Homo sapiens: one gene and its partner. The protein of the gene in region 2 interacts with the protein of the main gene of each other region in a pairwise test. Each region holds a gene or a part of one and is shown on either strand. Other genes may lie near its edges. The genes, in order: ZIC3 and MESP1.

Region 1 (3,792 bases), on a different chromosome or scaffold from region 2:
ATTTTATGGTAGAATAATTTCAGGTAACTAAGAAAAGATCAAACTGCTCTTTGTCTCAGGAGATATTTAATACATTTAATTGAAAGGGAGGCAGGTTTTTGGTTGAATCCTGTATCCAACCCATGGCTCTACTTCCACGTAAAGTTAGGTTAGATTGAGGGTGGGGGAGGGAACTCATGGAGAAAGTGGTAAATTATGGAAGTTCATTGTACAGTTCAGAAGAAAAATACACTATTTAGATTTCACAATGGAACACACTTAGAGCCAGTCTTATGAATATATACTTTCTGAGAACTTGCTGAGCATTTAAAATGGTCTCTGGTTTGAGGTGAAGGAAAAAGCCTGAAATAGGAATCTGGTCCAGCACCCTCAATGTCAAGGTCAAGATCGGAATGTCTGGGTTGGGAGTGATAGACTGACCAGGTTACCTGCTCATCACATGTGTAGTCATCCCAATCTCTGTTCATGGCATTCAGGCTTGGATATTGGTGGAAGAAAATGCAAAAGACCCCATTATTCTCCACTAACAAAAAATAGCCTCCAAAGCAATTTGCAATTAGAAACTGTCAATAACTAATTGTCTGTTGACAAAGATCAGTAGATAACTTAAATAGACTGCTTCAACCGCATTCACAGAATCAAAGTTTCTTTTAATCATCAGAAGTTCTGTAAGCATTTCAATTTTAGATTGATTTATTTGAACATGAAAAAAAATCAGGCACCAAATACAAAAATGTTATAACATAAATAAGATGTGCCAAGACTTTATTTCTTCAAAAAGAACAATAAACAAAATTCTAGAATTGAAAATGATCATATATAATACCAAATTGACTGCCACCAAAAACCTAGAGCATTGCCCCTTAAAGGAGGTACTTAAGCCTATTCAATACATTCTAAATACTTTACAATTCCTTATGTCCACCTTTCTGTTATTCATGCAGAGATTGGGCTCTCAATAACAAACAGCACCCTAATAAAAAAGGTCTCAATACTCTACCCACTCCAGCCCCCCAAAATAGCAATCAATTTCTTTTCCATATAACCACTGTAAAAGAACTGTTTGTCCAAATGAGTTGCTTCACTGAAGATTAAATGGATTGTTAACATTTTATCACAAAGCAAACAACCGTTTTTCATTGTTATTGATTTTAATGGAAACAATGCTCTTAACATCTTTGCCTACAAATCATGAACTTTAAAAATACATATTTTGCAATTTTTTTCCCATAGCATCATTTCAGAACTGCTGCAGTTATTACACCGCTATATAAATGTTATGGATAATTGCGATAATTATGAATTGAACTATATACAGCAAACAAATCAGCCTTTGCCTTCCAAAATTGTAAATGGACTATGGTTCTTTTAAGAAGCACTTTAACCATAAGTAAGCAATGCTCAACTGGCCTTACTCATCACCACTGTTTTAGACATAAGCTATCTTTTGAAAATATATAGATAGCTACTAGATAGATTGATAGGCAGATTAGATAAGTCATAGATACAAACATATATAGGTATATGGGTGATCTCTAGATAGAACAGACAGACATGCATCCTGCCGCAATTTTCATTTTTATGTAAGGTAATAAAGAACTAAGGGACATAAAATTCAGTAGGTTACCTTATGTTTATATATGTAGGGCAGGGATGATTAAATCCAGCTTCTCAGTCTTTGAAGTACAAGATTGAGATGTCATGGCCACTAACTGAATTGATCAGTAATATTTGATTTGCATGCCGAAAATCCAGGACAAACACATTTAAACTCGCAGTTAAACAACCATCTGAGATAGAGATAAAGAAAGGAGAGTCTTCCCAGATGGAAACTGACACTGTAAGGAATTTATACTGTAATAGAAAAATAATTTAACAATTAAAAAAGGGATCTGAGTGAGTTATAAATACCAACAAACAAGATTTAATTTGCTCACATCTCCTCTTTGTAGAAGAAGGCTGTTACAAAACAAGAGAAAGGAGTCAGTGGTTCCAAAATTGTAAATTGTGTTCTTCTTTCAAAACAATTTTTAATGCTAAAGCAGTTATAATCAAAAGCTGTACAGAATTTGTTAGAAAACATTTATCCATAAATATTGTTCAGTTCCCGGCACTTGTAGCAATAATTAAATTACAAACGATAAATATGGCATCAATGGATATGTATTTACAAAAAAAAAGTTATTACAAAAGGCAACTGTATACTAAACGTCACAATGTGTAGAGTAACATCACATCCTCAGCCTGAAAAAATACTGAACAACAGTTTCGACCCTATTAGACAAAAATACATTCACAAGTGTAATGCTTTGAGGAAAAGTTCAAGACATAACAGGACTTTGGCACGGTTTAAGACTGTGAGAGTTTAAACAATCACCACTAAGGCGAAAAAGAATTTCCATCAGTTTAACATCACCACCACCAACAAGCCTTCTATAACTTCCTCTCAAGAAACAGGACAAGTGTTAAAATGAATTGGAGGAGTTTAAGAATGGGGTGTGCAGAGAGCAAGAGGAAGGGGAAGAAAAAGTAGTGTAAAGATTTTGTAAAAAATGCTTCAAATGCCAAAACATATTTTCTATCCTGAGAAAAGGGCATGGCTACTTTTGGATCTTGCCCAAAACCTTCCTGGACAATTGCAATTAACAAGATGTAGCCCTATATATGGCCTCTTGCCTTAAAACTCCATTTCCATCTGATTGGTCTCAGTTTTCTTTTAAAAATGTATTTGGTCCATTCTATAATTAACAGGGTTTGTGTTTGTCCTCAGACGTACCATTCGTTAAAATTAGGAGGAAGTCCAGGGTTGTGGCTGGTGCTAGTTTGAACTGCAGAAGGGGTTTTAGTGGTATCTTTACTGTTTGCAGAAGCTATAGCGGGTGGAGTGGAAGATTCATAGCCTGAACTGGCAGCAGGGGAGGAATCTGACCCTTGAGATTCATGAACCTAAAATTAACATGTATATATTATAATGAATATAATTCCAACTGGCAATGTGCAAGCAAAAACAAGAGCAGAATTCGAGCACTGTAACAACAAGACCGCCCAGTGACCCACTTAAAAGAAAAATGCTGCTTAAAAAAAATCCGTATTACCGATGTCTAGAAAACCCGGAGATGTTCGCCAAAAACCAGTTTTGCTCCTAAGACTGGTGTTACGGAAAAGGAATAAAGCATTCCGTTTTGGTCATGCCACTTCAAAAATGCTTTCTCCGCGGATGGAGTGAGGTAAGCAGTACACTGTGAGGTCCTATAAAATACTAACTCCGGGCCCAGGTTTCACCAAGCCCGTTTCGGCTTGAGAAAGCAGGTACAGAGAAGGTGGCACAGGGGCCCTGAGCGCTGCGAAGTCGCAGACAAATGTGTGGGAATCAGATTGCACTCCTCGGCCCTATTGTTTTATCCGAAGCCAAAGAGCGAATGAACCACCCACCCTCGGGTTCGGCGCGGCTACTCTCGGTTCCCACCGCGGGCTGAGTCGGGAAGAGGCGGCCACGGCAGCCCCGCAAGCCCAGGCGAGCTCGGCTAGAGCTTCCCAGTAAACAACCGATTGTTCCCTCCGCTTCCTCCCCCTCCCAACTTTGCTCACTCCCGCCCACCCCCTCACCCCCACCCCCGCCCGGTCCCCAAAATGGGTTCAAGGTGTCACTGCTGGAGCAAATCGGATTTAACGTGGAAGACAGAGGGTTGGCAGCGCGGGCGCTTCCGTTCCGCGGCCCGGCGTCGGGCCGAGTGTTTACAAACCGCCGACCGCTAATAAAGAGGTAATTACCTTCATGTGTTTGCGCAGGGA
Region 2 (3,691 bases):
TTCTGGGCTCAAGCCTCCCGTTTCTTGCTCCCTGATGTGAATCCAGCCAATGCAGACAGGCACGCAACTGCCTGTGTGGATTCCGATGCAACCCCATGGGCCCCTCATCTCACCCCATCTAGGCCTGTAGGAGGTCATGGTTATATAAACTCAGGACCGCCACACCATTATTTATGTCTCTAAGCCACAAGGTGGGGAAACCAGAGAAAAGGCAGATGGGAAAATGCCGGCGGAGGGTGGGGGAGTTCCAAGGCCAGGATGCTCCCGTGCATGGAGAATAAGACCACAGGATGCAAGAAAATAACCCCTTGGAGCTGTTATCCCTCAGGCCCCAACATGTATGGAGCTGGCAAAATCCCACAAGAGCTGAGCGCTGGGACTCTGGAGGCCTACCTGGGCTTGAGCGCTGATCCTCATCCTTCTGTAAAATGGTTACTTGAGTATAATAGGTACCTGATGTACATACAATAAATACTCAATAATGGAGTTGTATTTCTACACAGATATTTTGGTTTTAACCAGTTCCCCACCAGGTTCAAAGAAAAGATGAGCAGATTCTACTTGCCGCTGCCTTCTCACAGGACGTCCCTCCCCACCCATTCCAGGCTGACCCATCTGGACTAGATGCTGAGCCAGGGCTGGGGGTAAGGCCAAAGGGGTCTGGGCCTGTGGGGGTCGGGGGGCTAAAGATTGCAAGAACCCCTCCCACCTCTCCCATGCTCTTCTTTGGAGGGAGAGAGGGAGCTCTGTGTCCACGGGTAGGAAGAAGAAATTGCCAACTGACACCAGTACAGTTTATTCACAAATAAATAAATTCACATTAGGCAGAGCCTCCTGCTTGCCTCAAAGTGTCTAGCCCTATGGGTCCCTCCATGGAGGGAGGGGCTGAGAAGGGCCGCCGCGGTGGGGACGGCTCTCACCCGCAGGAATGCCCCCGTCGGGATCGCCCGTGCCCTCTTCCAGGAAAGGCAGTCTGCCAAGGAACCACTTCGAAGGTGCTGAGGCCAAAAAGCCTCGGTGCTCACAGAGACGGCGTCAGTTGTCCCTTGTCACTTGGGCTCCTCAGGCAGCCACTCCAGAGGCGAGAGGGGCATCCAGGTCTCCAACAGAGCCAGCACGTCGCCCGGAAGGAGCTGTAGGGAGAGACGGAACAGCGCAGCCCTCAAGCACTGGTGGCCTTGTGCGGGTGTCCGCGCTCGTGGGCTCCACTCTCAGGGGGCCCCTAGCGAGGGGAGACCCAGTCCTCTGCGTGGCCTTTCCCTGCCTTCGCTTCTTGGAGCCCTGGGCATACTATGGTGGCCAGGTGGCCAGGCTGCCGGCGGGGAGCAGCAGGGTGCCTGGTCCTCACCTTGGCGGGCGGTGGGGCTGTGCGCGGGGGCACGGACGAAGGGGGCGCGGGGAAGGGGACACTAACCGGGGACGGTGGGCTTGGCTCCATCGCCTGCCCTTCAGGGCACGCCGCCTCGGCGAACAGCGCAGGCGGGTCGCGCGGCTCGGGTGCAGCTCGGGCTCCGGGGCAGGCAGGCGGGGATCCCCAGGACGCCCCGGCGCGGACGGCGGATACCAGGCCCAGCCCGCGCCCCTGCCCCTGCCCCTCAGCCTGCGTCCGTGTCTGCATCTGCGCGGGGCAGTCGTCGGGGCACAGCGGGCAGCCCCGAGGGGACCCCGCGTCACCGCGCTGCCGGCACCGGCGCTGGAGACTCTCCTCGCTGAGGCCTAGCACGGCCGACAGGTGGCCGATATAGCGGATAGCCAGGCGCAGCGTCTCGATCTTGGTCAGGCTCTGGCCCGCGGGCGCCACGGACGGCGGTAGAAAGCGGCGCAGCTCGTGCAGGGCGCGGGCCAGCGTGCGCATGCGCAGTTTCTCCCGCTCACTGGCGCTCTGCCTCTGCCCGCTGCCCAGGCGGCTGCTGCGCGCGCCGCGCCTACCTACGGAGGGGGCGCGGGGGTCCCGGAGGGTGCCTGGCCGCGCGGGGCTCGCCACGGGGCTGTCGGCTGGGGTGCTGCCCCATGAGTCTGGGGACGAGACGAGGGAGCGGCCGCAGTCCTTGTCGGAGGGCGGCGGCCGCCGAGTTGGGCCCCAGGCCGCAGAGAGCATCCAGGACTCGGAGAGCGGCGGGCACAGGGGCTGGGCCATGGCAGCGGCGGCGCGTCTGGGGGCCGGCGGCCGGCGGCCGCTTTATGCCGAGCCCGAGGTGTGAAGTGGCCCCTTCCAGGCCGCATCAGCACATCAAAGTGGGCTCGGGGCTTGGAGGGGGCGGAGCCTGACCCTTTGAATCCACGGCGGGGGGCCAAGGTGCCAGCCCCTTGACTGCGCCTGTTTCGCCCCACCTGGGCCCTCGCTTGGGCGCCCGACCCAGCCTCTCGGCCTTCCCGCCTGCGCCCAGTGTTGGGTGAAGCCCGGGGCGTTGGGCCAGCCCTGCAGGTTAAAGGAAGCGGGGTCAGAAAAACGAAATCTAGATCCTAGGTTTGGGGCCTGCCTTCACCTGTTGGGGACCTTATGCAAATTCTTAGTTCTTTTGCACCTTAGCTTCCAATTTGTATAATGAGAGCCTCAGGGCATGCGCCAATTGGACAGTGGAGTAGAGTAAGGACCAGGAGCAGGGACCCTCATTCCCTCTAAAGGTGGAGAAAACAGTAAACCACTTCTCCTTTGAGGCAGGATGGCCCTGGGTAGACCCTTCCCTGGTAAGAACATGTGGACAGTGCAAGGAAGCTTGCACCCCGGCAAATTCAATAAGCTGCCGAGTCTGGTCAGGATGCTGGACCTTCTGAGCAGAGGGAGGGGGTTAAGCCTGCTCCAACCCCAGGCCACCTCTAGCCTGGCAAGGTCTGGAGCTTGGCCTGTTGCCACAGCTGTCACCACTGGCCTTTACCTGATGTTCTGCCGCTATTGGACAGGTATAACAGGTTTTCCCAATGAAATGTGAGTGGAAATGACGCAGCAAAGGCATTTGACAAAATCCAACACCCTTCGTGATGAAAATTCTCAGCAAACTAAGAATAGAGAGGAATTTCATCAACCTGATGAAAGGCTCCTACAAAGAACCTACAGGTAGCCTCATACTGAGTAGTGAAAGACTGAAATCTTCCCCCCACCCCCCGATTGCAGGAACAAAGCGAGGGTGTCTCTCTTACCACTCCTATTCAACATTGTACCAGATGGAGGATCTAGGCTATGCAATTAGGAAACAAAAGACATACAGGTCAGAAAGGAAGAAATAAAACTCTTTTCGCAGGTTATGGCAGCTCTGGGCCCTGCTGCGCATGAGCCTGACCAATTTAAAGCGGAATCCTGGCTCCAGGAAACCCATGAGACGACCAAAAGGTCGGAGAAGAGGTAGAAAATGCGGCAGAGGCCATAAAAGAGAAAGGCAGAGAGGAAACTGGCTCTGCTGGGCTTTGGGGATGGCCAGACTCTATTTTACATCGGAATCCCAAAATACAGATTTAATGAAGGACTTAGCTTCAGACACCAGTATCAACCTTTAAGTATCAATAGACTGTAATATGTTACTGATTTGGGTCGTGTTGATCCTACTCAACCTATTGACTTAACCCAGCTTGTCAATGGAAGAGGTGTGACCATTCAGCCACTTAAAGAGGATTATGGTGTTCAGCTGGTCGAAAAGGCCGCAGACACCTTTCAGGTGAAAGTTAATATTGGGCCGGGCGCGGTGGCTCACACCTG

Evidence for each region.
Region 1: the proteins of MESP1 (region 2) and ZIC3 interact in a two-hybrid assay, tested with the Homo sapiens proteins (one large-scale study listed by BioGRID).

The regions. Positions count from the first base shown.
Region 1 is NC_000023.11:137,569,045-137,572,836, reverse strand, and holds the end of ZIC3 (zinc finger protein ZIC 3), read right to left. Parts: coding exon 3,772-3,792; intron 2,947-3,771; coding exon 2,767-2,946; 3' UTR 735-2,766; downstream 1-734. UniProt on the Homo sapiens protein: Acts as a transcriptional activator. Required in the earliest stages in both axial midline development and left-right (LR) asymmetry specification. Binds to the minimal GLI-consensus sequence 5'-GGGTGGTC-3'.
Region 2 is NC_000015.10:89,749,095-89,752,785, forward strand, and holds MESP1 (mesoderm posterior protein 1), read right to left. Parts: upstream 2,156-3,691; 5' UTR 2,138-2,155; coding exon 1,415-2,137; intron 1,134-1,414; coding exon 1,050-1,133; 3' UTR 781-1,049; downstream 1-780. UniProt on the Homo sapiens protein: Transcription factor. Plays a role in the epithelialization of somitic mesoderm and in the development of cardiac mesoderm. Defines the rostrocaudal patterning of the somites by participating in distinct Notch pathways.